Linked DNA regions of Homo sapiens. The protein of the gene in region 3 interacts with the protein of the main gene of each other region in a pairwise test. Each region holds a gene or a part of one and is shown on either strand. Other genes may lie near its edges.

Region 1 (7,147 bases), on a different chromosome or scaffold from region 3:
GGCTAGAGGGGAGAGAAGAGCCCCAGCAGCTCCTGACTCCTGCCGTACTGGCCAAGGTCCATGTCTCCCAGCAAACTGTGGACTCGTGGAGGGCAAGGTCTGTGTCAGACTCACCTAAGTGACCCCAATGAGCAGTGCAGAGTGGGTGCTTAGGTACAGCATGTTAGGTGAGTGTAGAATTCACACACTTAGTCATTCATCATTCATTCATTCATTCATTCCTATAATGATTAAAGCAATAGAGACACCTCTGGCCAGCTTCTCCCACCACAGGCTACAATCTGATGCCTGCTCTCAGGCCACAGAAGTCACTCCCCTGACTGTAATGGGTGTTAAGCTTCTGATACGGAGCCCTAGAGAGGAGACAGTGAGTCAGCGGCAGAGGAGGAACCAGAACCCAGGGCTGCAGACCTCCGTCCAGGCCTCTCCACTAAGGCTAGCGACCAGCTCTGCGGCAGGAAGGGGAGTCAGAAGAGAACCATGCGGGGTGATTCTAGACCAACACGGCGAGTCCTAGGGTCACCCACCCATCTGTCCCAGGGATCCTTACCTCCCTTAGGGGGAGGAGCCACACCTCCCCACCGCCATGGCTTCCACACTCCAGCAGGACACAGCCTCTCTAAGTCTTGAGACTTGAACACTCTACACTCTCCCCATCACCTTCAGGCCTTGGGCCAGGCTCCTGTAACACACCTTGACCCCTTCATCTGTTCAGCAACTACTCAGCCCTTGGACCCCACCTCCTGGGACCCTGGGTAATGATTTGTGGACTGTGTCCAATAGCCATGGACTCATGGGCTTCAGTCAATCCCTCCCATCCATCCATCCATCCATCCATCCATCCATCCATCCCTCCCTCCCTCCCTCCCTCCCATCCATCCATCCATCCATCCCATCCATCCATCCCTCCCATCCCTCCCATCCATCCCTCCTTCCCTCCCTCCCATCCATCCCTCCCTCCCTCCCTCCCATCCATCCATCCCTCCCTCCCTCCCTCCCATCCATCCATCCCTCCCATCCATCCCTCCCTCCCTCCCATCCATCCATCCATCCATCCATCCATCCATCCATCCATCCATTCATCCATCCATCCACTCTTCAGCATCAGGAGTGCCTGCAGGAGTAGGGAAGCTCCTTCAAAGTGTTGCCGTGGAGATGATGCGTGGAAATGCTGATCCAGGGCCCAGTACATAGCAGGCGTTCCATAAATGGCAGCTATGTGGGCCAGACCCTGCGCCCAAGTCTTGGGAGAGTGGATGGAAGATCTTCCAGATTGCTTAGGGCTCATTTCCTCTCTCCAGGCCTGGGCTCTGACAGGTGTCCCCCTACTCCACCCCAGCGCATGGAAAACTCATCCTCCAGGCTGAGGTTCTAGGCAGCCCTCCCCTCCCCACTCAGCTCCCAGGTGCGAACAGCTCCAGGTTTTGACGACAAACGGAACGCGGAGCCTTGGAATCTATAAATATGAGACAAAAGCTGGGGAGGGCCCTTGGCGGCAGCGCAGCCGCCCATCGCCCAGAGCCCGTGTGCTGAGCCCGGGCAGAGCCGCATCTGCCACAGTGCTTGCTTTTCCAAGCTGCCCTGATTATAGTGAGAGTCGGGAAAATTAAGGGTTTGCAGGATGCTGCTGGGGCCCTCTCTGCCGTCTCCCCGCCCTGCGTGTCACAGATGCCAGGCAGAGCCACCCCCAACGGCCAGTTGCCCCTGCTGGCAAGACCAAGGCCAGCCTGGCAGGGCTGCACACCGCAGTTTGTTAGGGGCTTCTGCCCACAGTCCTCGTGGGAGCCTGGCCCTGGGAGTAGTGGGGGTCTCTGCTGCTCTTGGCAGGCAGAGGAACTAGGGTCCAGAGAAGGAAAAGAACCTGTCCATGGCCTCCAGAGAGCCAGAGCACTGGGGCCTCCGACGGAGCCTGGCTGTGGAGACCCCGCCCCACCCATACCCCCAGGGCCTGGACCCCCAGTCTGCACTGGCGGCCGACCTTGGCCATGCGGACTTTGCACGTGCAGTGCTCCCTATCCATCCGGCCCCGCTCCCGGGTGCCCACTCTGCTCCCATTCTGCCGGCTCAGGAGACTCCAGCGCGTCGCCCACGCTGTTCCTGCCCTGAGGAAACCACATTGGGGATGGGGTGGGGCACAGACGAGGAAGGAAACACCTCTAAACCAAGCAGGAAGCGGAAACGCTGGGGCAGAAATTCCCATCCAACGTGCTGGGGCTCAGGGAGGGTGAGCGCGCCGGCTGAGCCGCTCTGGGCGAGGCCCTGGCCTCCCTGAGCCTCAGTTTCCTCGCCTGTAAAGGGGCAGGAGGATAGTACCTGCCGCGAGGTACTGAATGGGATGGTGGTGTCCGAGGTTCGTGCGCGCCCACGCGCTGCAAACGCTCAATGAGGCGGCCCCGGGTCCAGCCTCCTTCCGGCTCCCGGGCCTTTCTCCGGCCTCCCAAGCAGGGGCTGGCCCTGCCCCCAGACGCAGGCGGGTCCAGGCCTGCCCGCACCCTCGCCACCCGCCCGGGACAGCGGCGGGTCCCCAGTCCTCCGGCCGCGCCCTTGGTCACCCGTCCCTCCTTTCCTTCCGCCGCAGGGGCGCGCGTGTCAGGGCGCAAGGACCCCGCGATAGGACCCGGGCGCTCCCGGCGGCGCGCGGAGGCTGGGCATCCCCGCCCCACCCGAGAGTGCCCAGTTCCCAGGAGACCCGGCCCGGCTCCTCCCGGGCCAGTGAAGCCTCCACGGCGGGGGCGCAGCGCGGAGGGGAGCGGGGCGGGGGGCCGGCCACCTCCCGCGCTGAGCAGGGACCGCCCCAGGCGTGGGTGGCGCCCGCCCCGCCTCCGCGCCCGCGCCCGCGCCCTGCCCTCCCGGCTCGCAGGTACTCACCGCCCGGCGCAGCCGGCCCGGCCGGCGACCGCCAGTCCACATGGCCCCAGGGCAGCCGCGCCGCTCACCGCCGCCGCCGCTACCGCCGCCCCCTCCCCTCCGAGGCCGAGCGCGCCGGGAGCCGGCGCGGCCGGGGCTCCCCCACCCCGCCCGGCTTCCCGCAGGGAGCGCCCGCCCCCCGCCCCCAGCCCGGCTCCCCGCCAGCCCCGGCCCCGCGCAGCCGCGGCTGAGCCCGCGCGTCCTCCCGGCAGCGCCCGGCCGGGGCGCAAGTGGTGGGCGCAGGGCCGGGCAGGGGCGCGGGGGTGCGGCGTGCGCGGGGGCCAGGCGAGGAATGGCAGAGGGGCAGGGAATGAATGAACCCGCGCCAGCTTGAATGGCTGAGCGCGTGAATGAATGAGTGCGGTAGAGCATGCGGGGCTGGGGGGGCGGGGGGAATGAATAAATGAGAGAACTAATGCACGGGCGCGAAGGTGAGTGACAGAGTGAATGGGCCCTTGAAACCCAGAGGCTGTCAGTAATGACCTGCCCAACCTTTTCATCGGTCCATCCATTCAATCCCTCAACATTTATTAGACACCTAGTGTGTACCAACCAGCCCTGCTGTAGGCCCCAGGGGGTACAGTAGCGAGTGAAACCAAGCTCCTGCCCTCGCAGAGTCACATTTTACAGATGAGGAAACCCTGGCTCCCAAGGGTGCCTCCTGGCCAAGCTGCCCCTTACCCTGCCCTTGCTCTGCCCGAGCCCCCAGTCGGTGGCTTCCAGGGCTTGCCTTCTCCCCAAGGAGCTCTCAGGAAGGGAAGGTGGCTTCAGGAGGACCAGTGTTGCCCCCTGCCTATCCCTCCAGTCTGAAGCATCCCACCGACCTGCCCGGTAGAGCCCAGGCTGGCCAGTCCTACCCTGGTAAAGGTGCAGCGTGAACCCTCCTCTCTCCTCCCAGAGCGGGCAAGGGGCAGCCCTGAGGGTGCCAGCTACATGAGGGTCTTCCATCCCAGCCAGCCCAGCAGCAGCCAGCGTGGGAACCCGGGGAGGAGCACTGGCAGCCAGGGAGGGTCCTGCGTGGTGGAAACAGAGCTGGCAAAGCCCGTGTGCTTCGCTCATATCCTCCCTCGGGACCTATGGGCTCATGGTTCACACATGCTTATATCATTTCCAAGTACATGGCAGATTAGAAGATGCTGCGAATGAGTACCTTGTATATTTTTGTTTTTTAATTGTGGAAAACATGGAAAACATAAAATTTACCATTTTAACCACTTTTAAAGTGTACAGTTTGGGGACACTGAGTTCCCACTGTTGAGCTGCCATCACCACCATCCTTATATGCTGTATGTTGTATGCTTTGCAGTTTCTACGCTCTCTCATTTAATCTGGGGAGTAGGTTGCTACATTCAGGCAGTGTCAGTGCTGAGAAAAGGCACTGATAGCAAGGCAAGAGGGGAAACCCAGAAAAAAAGGAGACAAGCAAAAGAACCAGCAGCTGACTGGAGCCACTTCGTGTCAAGCAAAGTCCTGTCTCTGCTCCCTCTCAGGTCCCAGGGACATGATTGGGTAACCAATGGACAGAGGGAGGCGCCTCCAAGTGCACCCCACCACAGTCAAGACAAAATGAGAGGCGGCAGCTCAGGGCGGGGCTCTCCCAGTTTGGGCGAAGCGTGGACAGACTTCGCCCAAACCGTCGCTGGTGTGCACCACGGGACCAGCCTCTTTGCTCAAGGGGGCCTTAGTCTCCCCAGCAGGAGTAGGGACAGGCTCCCTGACCTCCACTCTGGCCTCTCAGGTTCAGACACCATTCAGGCAGCACACAGCAGTGGAGGCATCCTGTGAGAGGTAGTGAGGCCCAGCCTGCCAGCTCCAGTGTCCCTTCCCTCCCCAGTCCCTAAGGGGACAAACACCAATGGGGGATGTGGAACCTGGGGTACAGGCAGGGCTCTGCCCACATTGCCTCCTCCTGGGCTGCGGCCCTTCCCCAGAGGCTGGTCCTGCTCAGATGGTGCCAGAATGTTCACCGCCCGCCCTGGCACTGCTGCTGCCAACGCCACAGATGGCTGGGGAGGCGGGGGAGGGGCGGGTGGGGTGGGGGCGGCTCCTGCTTCAGCTCCAGCAGCTTGCAGGCTTCAGCTCAGGCCTGCCTGGGAAGGCCCCAGGAGAGCCCCTCCCCCATGCTGCACGCACCTCCCGTCCCCACCCTCCCTGCCCTCTCTTCTATCCTTCCCACTCCAGCCCCCTTAAGCTAGGAAGGCGGAGAGAAAGCAGGCATTGGTTGTGGGTCTGGGAGCATCCCTGCAATGCCCCTGTAGGGGAAGTGGTACTAGCCCCTTTTTGCAGATGGGGAAACTACAGTCAGTGCAGCAGAGCCTGGGGCATCAGGCAGGCTTCCTGGAGGAGGCAAGGTTTCAGCCGGGTTGGGAAGAAGGGATGAAAGTGGCAGGACTTCGAGGTGATGCCCTGGGGCCATGGAGGACCCTCTCCTCAGGCCCCTGCCCTCATTCAGACCTCTACGGACCACTCTGTTTGACATCACCATCCCCATGGCTCAATCTCGTTGCCCTATTTTGTTTTTTGCGTGTCTCTTACTGCGTTCCAGAGCTATCTGATCTGTCTGTTGATGTGGACATCAATCTCCCCGCTGGGATGCGTGGTCCTCTACTGTGGTCAGGGAGCAGGGCAGGAAGTGGCACCACACTGGGGCTCATGGTTAAATGTGCCAAAGAATGCATGGATGGATGGAGGTGGGGGAGATAGGAATAGCCTGGTGTGATGCCAGGCTTCTGGCCCTGGTGGCTGAGTATAAAAGAAAGGACAGCACGTCAGGGAAGTCATTGACAGTGAGGCACCCGCAGACAGCCACATACAGGGGCTCCAGCATCAGCTAGCCATGCTGACCAGTTCCCTGCCTCATCTTCCAATCCCCACCCACAAGAACAGATTGAGCAAGGGTTCTGACTATGAGCCCTAGAGAATGGGAAGGTGAGAGGTATCTTCCCACTCTCCCACAAACAACAGGTGCTCCAACTGAAACTCTGGAGTCCCCTGCAGAATCGGGCTACAGCTGCCCTCCACAGGTGGTGAGAAGGCCCTGAATTGGCCCAAGTGTGTATCTAACAATGACCCCAACTGCAATATTAACCCAAATTCCAACCTATATCAAATGCTAAACCTAACTCTAATGGGACCCAAAACCAAAGCAAACTTTAACCCTACCCCAATGCTAGCCTGAACAGTAACATGAACCCTAAACCCGACTCTAACCCCAACACTGTCCTGCCAGAAAGCAATAACCTCAACCCACACCACACGCTAAAGTTAACCCAGACGCCAACCCAAAACCAAATCCCAAAAGGAACATTAAACCAAACCCCAACCCAGCCCTAACCCTAACACTAAACACTGCCAAAAACACCCCAAGCACTAGCCCAAATCCTAACCATAATCCCAACCCCAAACCTAAGCCTAATCCCAACCTGACCCTAACCCTAATCCCAAACCAAATCCTAACCCTAATCCTAACCCCAGCCCTAACCCTAACCGTACCCCGCTGCCCTGTTCCTTCACCTGCTTGTCCTGGGAGCAACGATGAGGGGGGCCTGGGACCGTAGGAAGCGGGCACAGGCAGCTGGGAGCCTCGTAGGTGCTCTGTCCGAGGCAGGTCCCAGGCCCAGGGGTCTGGCCCACTGCTCCTCCTGGGGTGGTGCTGTGAGCCCCTTGGCCTCCACCCCACTGCCTGCCCTGCTCTGTCTCCATGGGAAGCAGCAGTGGCCTCCTCCCTGGGCCTCTGCCCCTGTCAGGCCTTTCCAGCAGGTGGAGGTGGTTTGGATGCTGTGGCTTGGGCTTCAAAACTGTAAATAGGGGAAACCATTTTCAAACAAATATTTGTCAAGCAAAATCCCATCTCATCTCAGTGTGACTGGGCTTATCTCTTTATGCCCTGGGCCTGGGTACGGAGGGCACCATCCTGGGCCTCCCATGCTTGAGCCTGGGCAAGGGGAGCGGACACAGAGCAGGGGATGGCACCGAGGTGGCCTCACTAAGACAGAAACTGCCACTGGGTGTGCGTGCTGCTGCGAACAGTCAGCAGGGGTTCACCAAGGCCACCTGGGGGTCTGGGCTCCTTCAGGGGCCCACCTGCTAGGTCCTGGGCCAGGCTCGGCCCTGCTGCTGCTGTGGTGCCCTCCCCAGCCAGGCTGAGCTCCGGCTACATCATCCCTGTCCATACCTTCTGTTTCCGGGTCCTTGCACAGGGAGTTCCCTCATCCTGAGATGCCCTTCTGTGGAGTGTCCA
Region 2 (7,092 bases), on a different chromosome or scaffold from region 3:
GTCGTTCCCCTATTGGCTAGGGTTGGACTGCATAGTCTAAGCTAATTCCAACTGGCTGTTTTAAAGAAAGCAGGGGTATGAACCACAGTGGCGGGGTGAGCAGTTTCAGTGGGAAGGACGGTTACAGAACAGGCGATTAAAGGTGATGCAGGTCAGAGCAGATGACCAGGGGTGACTCAGGACAGAGCAGGTGACCAGGGGAATAGATGTGAACTACTGATTGGAACTGGTGGAAAAGGTTGTTTACTGAAACTAGGGGCAAGGAGATGAGGTTAAACTTTAAAGTGGAGAACAAAGAACTGAACATACTGACATACTGATTCTTTGAAGAGAAATTTAGAACTCACTGTATTTAACATGGGGCTTAAATTGGACAATAAAGGATGAGAAAGATTCAGAAAGGAAAGGAACAGAGTAGAGGAAGTAGGAATGAGCAGCAGACTGATGGTGAGATCAACTTGCAGGGTGTGATGGCTGGAGTGACTAAGAATTCTACTGCCTCTGTTAAGAAATTGCTCAACTCTAGTCTGAGTTCTTACAATTCCTAACACATACACATATGAATATATAAGTCCTTGTATTATTTTTAGTTGTTTGGCTGTTTTTTTATCAACTGATTGATGTTCCATGAGGTTAAGGATCATGCATTATTAATTGTTCTTAAGGCTTCATATTTATGATTGAAAGGAAAAATTAGGAAAGTTTCAGATGACTTCTGTTTTGGATGATCTGTATTTAAGATGATAATAAGACATCTACTTGGAAAAATATTTCCAACAGAAACAATGATATTTCAATAATGGAAAAGAATTTGGAATGGGAAGACAGATTTTGACAAGTGTTGGGAACAGGCCCCCAAATCTGGCCATAAACTGGCCCCAAAACTGGCCATGAACAAAATCTCTGCAGCACTGTGACATGCTCATGATGGCCTTGACGCCCACGCTGGAAGGTTGTCAGTTTACTGGAATGAGGGCAAGGAACACCTGGCCCACCCAGGGCAGAAAACAATAGCATGAGCGATCTGTGCCTTAAGGACATGTTCATGCTGCAGATAACTAGCCAGAGCCCATCCCTTTATTTCGGCCCATCCCTTTATTTCCCGTAAGGAATACTTTCAGTAAATCTTATCACTGGCTTGCTGTCAATAAATAAGTGGGTAAATCTCTGTTCAAGGCTCTCAGCTCTGAAGGCTGTGAGACCCCTCATTTCCCACTCCACACTCTATATTTCTGTGTGTGTCTTTAATTCCTCTAGCGCCACTGGGTTAGGGTCTCCATGACCGAGCTTGTCTTGGCAGACAAGATTCATGAAAAGGGTAGTTGAAGATATGTAACAGTATTAATTCTCCAAGAGTATGAAATAAATATCACTAGGTTCAGACTGAACCTTGGAAAACAAACAATTTGAGTATAAGTAAGAACAAAATTTATCAATGATAAAGAAAAAAAAGGGGGGTTAGTTCCATGGTATATTAACCAGAGAGTCTCAATCCCTTATATTTTACTGGGCCATTTCTTTGATATTTCTGGTTATGTTTCCTAGATGCGCTAACCAAGTAGTGTCCTAATGCTTAATGAGCATGATCTCATTTACCATAGTAAGATGGGTGTAAAGTAGGCCCATATAATCCGAATGAAATTTCAATTATGCTGAGCAGCTGGTTCTATGACATGTTATCTCAGCTGACAGTACTATCTCCAGGTGTTTTATCACTTCTCATCTATTTAAAACCGAGTCCCCCTAAAGCTGGTAGCTTTAAACTAATAAATATTGATTGAGCATCTAGTGCCTTATAATATTGTGTTAGGAGGACTTACAAAAATGGGTAAGCAGATGTGTGAAGAAACGCTAGGAGAACAGAGAGGAACGAGTAATTAATTATGATGAGAAAGTTGGAGGTTAAAGAGCAGGGCTCCTGATGGATGAACATGTCTTGGTGGGCATGTTGCGGGAGGGGAAGACGGGTGAGAGTTTTGTTGGTGGAGAGGGAGACAGTCAGGGGAAATCCGGTAGAGACCACAAAGCAGAACAGAGACTTCAAGGGGCATGCTGGTAAAGGCTCCCATAGTACCTTGTGTTTCTCAAGGGCAGGGGGTCAGTGTTGGTTTAACTGCATCCTCGGCACACAGGAAATACTATTTACCGTGTCAATAAATTTCAGGACAAGCGGGGTTGTCCCCAAGTGTCCTACAAAACGGCGGTTACTCTTCCCAAGGGAAGCAGGGGATTGGGGATGGTCCTCGCAGCAGTTTCTTTTCGCAGACAATGGCAGATCTGAGACATGTGGCACCCCTCCCCGTTCCACCTGGCTGGAATGGGCAACTCCTCTTACCAGTGACCCCAAATTCAGGATCAGTAGGACAGCCCCCACCCCACGCCACCAAGCCCTCAGCGCTCCACTATGACGTCACGCGCGGCGGCGGTAACTATGGAGACCGCCAAACCCTCACTAAATGCGTAAGCGCGCCTGCGTTCCCAACGCCGAAGCTGGTTCTACCTTTCTCCGGGATTCCTCTGAGGGCCAAGGTCTGGTCACCCAGAGGCTGCTAATTTCAAAGGCAATATGAGAGGGACTGGATGTTTGGAGGGGGACACGGGGCTGGACATCTGGATCCCCAAACCCGGACTCACCTCTCGGACAGGGCTGATTCCGATCGGACACTTCCGGTGGAAGGACTGAGCGGCGCTACACTTCAAGAATTCCGTCCACAGGGACTTGTGAGTCTGCGCAGAAGGCGGGATGCCTTTGGACTACAATTCCAAGAATCCTTCCTGGGTCTCTTCGGGCGCAGACTTTTCGCCAAAGTCCTGAAGATCTCAGGGCTTGAAGGAGGGGGCATCTTTTTTCTCCATTGTAGTAGTGTGTCTTGCTAAATAACAGAAGGGACTCCTGAAAAGAAAATGACGTTGGCCGGGCGCGGTGGCTCACGCCTGCAGTCCCAGCACTTTGGGAGGCCGAGACGGGCGGATCACGAGGTCAGGAGATCGAGACTATCCTGGTTTACGCGGTGACACCCTGTGTCTACTAAAAATACAAAAAAAAAAAAAAAAAAAAAAATTGCCGGGCGTGGTGGCACGCGCCTGTAGTTCCAGGTGCTCGGGAGGCTGAGGCAGGAGAATCGCTTGAACCCGGGAGGCGGAGCTTGCAGTGAGCCGAGACCGCGCCACTGCACTCCAGCTTGGGTGACAGAGTGAGACTCAGTCTCAGAAAAAGAAGAAGAAGAAAAAGATACACACTCGAGCACACATTTTCTCAGCAAAGCAATTTACTTCTATAGAAGGGTGCGTCTCACGGATGGAGCAATGGCGAGAGCACACCTGAACAAGGGAGGGGAAGGGGTTCTTATCCCTGACGCAGGTAGTCCCTAGTGCTGTGTCGTTCCCCTACTGGCTAGGGTTGGACCGCACAGTCTAAGTTAATTCCGATTGGCTATTTTAAAGAGAGCAGGGGTATGAGCCGGAGTGGTAGGGTGAGCAGTTTCAGTGGGAAGGACGGTTACGGAACAGGTGACTAAAGGTGACTCAGGTCAGAGCAGGTGACCAGGGGTGACTCAGGACGGAGCAGGTCACCAGGGGAACAGATGTGAACTACTGATTAGAACTGGTGGAAAAGGTTGTTTACTGAAACTAGAGGCAAGGAGACGAGGAAAATGAGGAAGTTAAAGTTTAAAATGGAGAACAAAGAATTGAACATACTGACATACTGATTCTTTGAAGAGAAATTTAGAACTCACTGTATTTAACAAGGAGTTCAAGGCCAGCCTGGCCAACATGGTGAAACCCCGTCTGTACTAAAAATATAAAAATTAGCTGGGTGTGGTGGTGGGCGCCTGTAGTCCCAGCTACTTGGGAGGCTAAGACAGAAGAATCGCTTGAACCCAGGAGGTGAAGGTTGCAGTGAGCTGAGATCACGCCACTGCACTCCAGCCTGGGCGACAGAGCAAGGATCCATCTCAAAAAAAAAAAAAAAAGTTTATTCGGGAATAGGAAATTGCAATAAGAATAGACGTGCCAGAGTAAACTATGTTTCTATTCAGGGAGGTAAAGGAAGACAAAGGTTTTTAAAGGAAGAATGGGGAGGATTATTTAATTGTTTTGAAATCATTATTCTTGACTACAAAGATCGGTAACGAGGATGACACCAGTCTGAGGTTAGACAAACAGTTGCTGGGCGGATGTCCTTGCAGAGGTATTTTTGGTGTAAGATGGGTTTTGCAGTCATATGTGATAGTTTTCTTATGAGGCATACAAGCCTGAGAAGTGTCTCTTCATAGCCCTCCCTGGCTCTATCTGTCAGATTATTGCTTTTGTTTTTATTTTTTAACACTAGTGGGCCGGGCGTGTTGGCTCACTTTTCTAATTCCCCGCTTTGGGAGGCAAAGGCAGGAGGATTAATTGAACTCAGGAGTTCGAGACCAGCCTGGGCAACATAGTTGGGACCTCGTCTCTACAAAAATTAAAAAAAAAAAAAATTAGTCGGGGGTTGTGGAATGCACTTGTACTCCCAGCTACTCGGGAGGCTGAGGTGGGAGGATCGCCTGAGCCCAGGAGGTGGTGGCTGCAATAGTGAGCTGTGATTGCACCACTGCATTCTAGCCTGAGTGACTCCTGCCTCTATTTAAATCTCAGGTGGTGAAATTGAAGCCCACGCAGCAGGGTTGCAACTGAAACTTCATCTCCTCTGCAAAACCTTCCTGCATTCCCAGACAACTTTTCTTCTGAGGCCTTGTTTGATTCATCCCCTTACCCCAGTGGAACTCAGATATTCAAAATGGTATTAATTAAAACCACTGGCTGTCATTGGTCCATGCATGGCCTTAAAGTGTGAACATTTTTTAATCCATTACCTAGTCTATAAGAACTGTAGATTGACAACAACTTAGATTTAATACTACTCTTTTTCTAGTCCCTCTCTATACTACCTCTCATCCGAGGAAACACTATCACAAATTTTGTATTTGTTGTTCCCTTGCTTTTTAACAAGATGATTCTATTAGATATGTACTGTTTTGTCCCCCAAAAGTGGTGGCAGGGGAGTTCACACAAGGGAGTGCCCAAAACCGTCCTAGTTGGGGCTGGTTGGGATTCCAAAGAAAGGAGCACTATGTGCCAAGGTGATCTGTCCAAAGCATTTATTAAGGGAACTTACATAGTGTTGCAGGAATCCTCCCCATGGGTGGTGAGAGAAAAGGGACATTCTACCTAGATATGTCTGCAGTGAGGGGGTCAGGGTATGGAGTTTATATAAGGGTTTAAAGAATTTGGCTCAGGGCCAGAGCTAGTTTCTTTCACTGTTTTCAGTGACAACTTAGATACCTTTATCAGTGCCTGGGAATGTTCAAGACCCAAGTTTGGGTTCAAGCATGCTGGGAAAAAATCTGCAGCTGGCTAGGTCACAGAGAGGTCAAGGCACTCTGATTTTCAGTCACAGAATAGTCAAGGCTCTGTGATTTCCAGTCAGAGATCCTGCAATCCATTTTCCTGACTGGCTCTTACAATCTCACATGCCCATCTCTTCCTATATGTTCCCTGAGCTGGTCAGAAAGGGTGGGATCATCGGCAATTTCTTTCCCCTGGCTTTATGAAACACTGCAAACAAAACCTACACTAACAGTAAATACAAGTGCACCTGACAAAATCTAAAATCACATTTTCCAAAAGGCTTCCTAGCAGAGCTTTCCACCAAGGACCCCATCCTGGAAAACATGACTTTGTGTAGACCACCAGGCATACCCTATGTGGTCAGTAAGCTGTAATTGCTTTCGTGAGTGAAGGACGGATTGATTAACTTCAGCTTCTTTGTCTAGAATATACACACAATGTTCACTTTTGTAAAGGGCACAGGTTCCCCCTTGCACAGATGTCAGCATCTCTAGGGCCATTTGGTTTTGTAGACCACTTTTTTCACTGCAGCTGTTTCAATGTTCAAGGCCTCCATACCATGTTTGGTGTTGTTCAAAGCTGTGGAGACAAATCTCTGAAGGGCTTCCAGCTTCTACACAGTATCAGAAGAACCTCCTGGAGGCACAAATATAGTCAATAAGTAATCCCACCAAGAAAAAACAGGTCTACTCCACTGACCTCTCCAGATGGACTCATTGAGGGATACAGGAATGGTGCCAGAGATTCTGGAGTCATCCAAGCCACCCCAGGGGAAGCCAGGGCTGGAGGTTAGTAGCAGAGAGCCACTGGGTGCCATCTGGGGCAATTCAGTATATTCCTGGCCTACAAGACTGTTTGTGACAAATCAATCTGTGACCTTAAGGATAATGGTGTGTTGGCATTGGGCAATTGGGAGGAAATCTAGGTACTAGGAGAATACCTTAGGTATTACCTGAATGTCTTTAGAGTGATTATGTTGTTCCCAACAGATCTATGCAACTCGAGAGCATCCTTGCTGTAAGGATGAGCTAAAGAAAGCCATCCCACATTTGCCAGTATGATCTCCATTGCCAGAACCTGGTGCTCTTCAGGGCAGTTTTCACTTTGATGGTTGCCTCCTATGGGACATGTTTAGGGAAAAACTTAAATTTTGTCTGTAGTTGTTCAATGTCCTATCTCAATCACTCACATTTGCATGTGTGGTGTTAGAGGAATCTAGGGTACCTATTTATATGCATTGTCCGGTCATCCAAGTTTGTACAGAGATCCAGTCTTTACCCAGTAGTGGCTCAGTCCACCATGGAGTTCCTACATGGCTATTCAAGGGCATAAGACCAAACACTCAGCAGTTAGGTTGGCCATGCAGATGGGCTGTGTGATGGCCCCAGGCCAGGAAAACATTTTGGAAGGATTTCCAGGTGCCAGTGGGAATGATATAACAGCAAAAGGAGAAGGCAACTCAAGCTAACAGTGAAATGACAAAAACTTATTAGAAACACATAGGGCGTCTCCCACTCTCTGGCATAATAAAGCTGGTATTAACTCTGCCTTGCTACAATAATTTTGGTTTCCTTGGGAATCTTCCAGGAGAGCTGTACCAGACCCTCTGCCCAGTGTGGGAGGAGTCGTAGACTCTACAGTGATAGGGGTGGATGACACCATACTGGTGTCACTTTGGTTCCCATTGGTATGGGGGCACTGCCTGCC
Region 3 (3,288 bases):
GCCGAAATTAAATTTAAAACCTTATTACATTTGCCACCTTTTCAAAAATGATGTTTCCTAAGATACAAGAATATGAGAATTAGAATACAAATTTTTGATGATTTAACAAAATGTTAGTTTGTTCACCATTTTATATGCTCTTTTTAAATTTTTTTTTTAGAGACAGGGTCTCCCTTCCGGTGACTCCGTCACCCAGGCTAGAGTGCAGTGGTACAATCAAAGCTCACTGCAGCCTCAGACTCCTGGTCTCAAGGAATCCTCTCATCTCAGCCTCCTGAGCACCACATCCGGCTAATTTTTAAATTTTTTGTAGAGACGGGGTGTCAGTGTCTGGCTATGTTGCCCAGGCTGGTCTTGAACTCCTGGTCTCAAGTGACCCTCCTGTCTCAGCCTCCCACAGTGCTGGGATTACAGGCATGAGCCACTGCACCAAGCCTTCATGTTTTCAAAAATTGTAAACTCATTGTTGGTTTGGAAATTTTTTTTTCAATATTTTAAAATCATTACTTATTAAACGATAGCCTAGGGACCCCACCATTTGGTTACAGTACTTTTTTTTTTTAATCATACTTTAAGTTTTAGGGTACATGTGCACAATGTGCAGGTTAGTTACATATGTATACATGTGCCATGCTGGTGCGCTGCACCCACTAACTCGTCATCTAGCATTAGGTATATCTCCCAATGCTATCCCTCCCCCCTCCCCCCACCCCACAACAGTCCCCAGAGTGTGATGTTACCCTTAATGTGTCCATGTGTTCTCATTGTTCAATTCCCACCTATGAGTGAGAATATGCAGTGTTTGGTTTTTTGTTCTTGCGATAGTTTACTGAGAATGATGATTTCCAATTTCACCCATGTCCCTACAAAGGACATGAACTCATCATTTTTTATGGCTGCATAGTATTCCATGGTGTATATGTGCCACATTTTCTTAATCCACTCTATCATTGTTGGATATTTGGGTTGGTTCCAAGTCTGCTATTGTGAATAATGCCGCAATAAACATACGTGTGCATGTGTCTTTATAGCAGCATGATTTATAGTCCTTTGGGTATATACCCAGTAATGGGATGGCTGGGTCAAATGGTATTTCTAGTTCTAGATCCCTGAGGAATCGCCACACTGACTTCCATAATGGTTGAACTAGTTTACAGTCCCACCAACAGTGTAAAAGTTTTCCTATTTCTCCACATCCTCTCCAGCACCTGTTGTTTCCTGACTTTTTAATGATTGCCATTCTAACTGGTGTGAGATGGTATCTCACTGTGGTTTTGATTTGCATTTCTCTGATGGCCAGTGATGATGAGCATTTTTCATGTGATTTTTGGCTGCATAAATGTCTTCTTTTGAGAAGTGTCTGTTCATGTCCTTCACCCACTTTTTGTTGGGGTTGTTTGTTTTTTTCTTGTAAATTTGTTTGAGTTCATTGTAGATTCTGGATATTAGCCCTTTGTCAGATGAGTAGGTTGTGAAAATTTTCTCCCATTTTGTAGGTTGCCTGTTCACTCTGATGGTAGTTTCTTTTGCTGTGCAGAAGCTCTTTAGTTTAATTAGATCCCATTTGTCAATTTTGGCTTTTGTTGCCATTGCTTTTGGTGTTTTAGACATGAAGTCCTTGCCCATGCCTATGTCCTGAATGGTAATGCCTAGGTTTTCTTCTAGGGTTTTTATGGTTTTAGGTCTAACGTTTAAGTCTTTAATCCATCTTGAATTAATTTTTGTATAAGGTGTAAGGAAGGGATCCAGTTTCAGCTTTCTACATATGGCTAGCCAGTTTTCCCAGCACCATTTATTAAATAGGGAATCCTTTCCCCATTGCTTGTTTTTCTCAGGTTTGTCAAAGATCAGATAGTTGTAGATATGCGGCGTTATTTCTGAGGGCTCTGTTCTGTTCCATTGATCTATATCCCTGTTTTGGTACCAGTACCATGCTGTTTTGGTTACTGTAGCCTTGTAGTATAGTTTGAAGTCAGGTAGTGTGATGCCTCCAGCTTTGTTCTTTTGGCTTAGAATTGACTTGGCAATGCAGGCTCTTTTTTGGTTCCATATGAACTTTAAAGTAGTTTTTTCCAATTCTGTGAAGAAAGTCATTGGTAGCTTGATGGGGATGGCATTGAATCTGTAAATTACCTTGGGCAGTCTGGCCATTTTGACGATATTGATTCTTCCTACCCATGAGCATGGAATGTTCTTCCATTTGTTTGTATCCTCTTTTATTTCATTGAGCAGTGGTTTGTAGTTCTCCTTGAAGAGGTCCTTCACGTCCCTTGTAAGTTGGATTCCTAAGTATTTTATTCTCTTTGAAGCAATTGTGAATGGGAGTTCACTCATGATTTGGCTCTCTGTCTGTTATTGGTGTATAAGAATGCTTGTGATTTTTGTACTTTGATTTTGTATCCTGAGACTTTGCTGAAGTTGCTTATCAGCTTAAGGAGATTTTGGGCTGAGACAATGGGGTTTTCTAGATATACAATCATGTTGTCTGCAAACAGGGACAATTTGACTTCCTCTTTTCCTAATTGAATACCCTTTATTTCCTTCTCCTGCCTAATTGCCCTGGCCAGAACTTCCAACACTATGTTGAATAGGAGTGGTGAGAGAGGGCATCCCTGTCTTGTGCCAGTTTTCAAAGGGAATGCTTCCAGTTTTTGCCCATTCAGTATGATATTGCCTGTGGGTTTGTCATAGATAGCTCTTATTATTTTGAAATACGTCCCATCAATACCTAATTTATTGAGAGTTTTTAGCATGAAGGTTGTTGAATTTTGTCAAAGGCCTTTTCTGCATCTATTGAGATAATCATGTGGTTTTTGTCTTTGGTTCTGTTTATATGCTGGATTACATTTATTGATTTGCGTATATTGAACCAGCCTTGCATCCCAGGGATGAAGCCCACTTGATCATGGTGGATAAGCTTTTTGATGTGCTGCTGGATTCGGTTTGCCAGAATTTTACTGAGGATTTTTGCATCAATGTTCAACAAGGATATTGGTCTAAAATTCTCTTTTTTAGTTGTGTCTCTGCCCGGCTTTGGTATCAGGATGATGCTGGCCTCATAAAATGAGTTAGGGAGGATTCCCTCTTTTTCAATTGATTGGAATAGTTTCAGAAGGAATGGTACTAGTTCCTCCTTGTACCTCTGGTAGAATTCGGCTGTGAATCCATCTGGTCCTGGACTCTTTTTGGTTGGTAAGCTATTGATTATTGCCACAATTTCAGATCCTGTTATTGGTCTATTCAGAGATTCAACTTCTTCCTGGTTTAGTCTTGGGAGAGTGTATGTGT

The links. Proteins that work in one complex are often made in the same cells at the same time.
Region 1: the proteins of MAB21L3 (region 3) and BEGAIN interact in binary tests that used the Homo sapiens proteins (3 or more experiments, as listed by UniProt).
Region 2: the proteins of MAB21L3 (region 3) and ZNF165 interact in binary tests that used the Homo sapiens proteins (3 or more experiments, as listed by UniProt).

Annotation. Positions count from the first base shown.
Region 1 is NC_000014.9:100,584,381-100,591,527, forward strand, and holds the start of BEGAIN (brain-enriched guanylate kinase-associated protein), read right to left. Parts: upstream 3,038-7,147; 5' UTR 2,911-3,037; coding exon 2,869-2,910; intron 1-2,868. UniProt on the Homo sapiens protein: May sustain the structure of the postsynaptic density (PSD).
Region 2 is NC_000006.12:28,076,513-28,083,604, reverse strand, and holds the start of ZNF165 (zinc finger protein 165), read right to left. Parts: upstream 3,038-7,092; 5' UTR 2,635-3,037; exon of another isoform or gene 2,075-2,634; intron 1-2,074. UniProt on the Homo sapiens protein: May be involved in transcriptional regulation.
Region 3 is NC_000001.11:116,135,399-116,138,686, reverse strand, and holds the end of MAB21L3 (protein mab-21-like 3), read right to left. Parts: 3' UTR 538-3,288; downstream 1-537.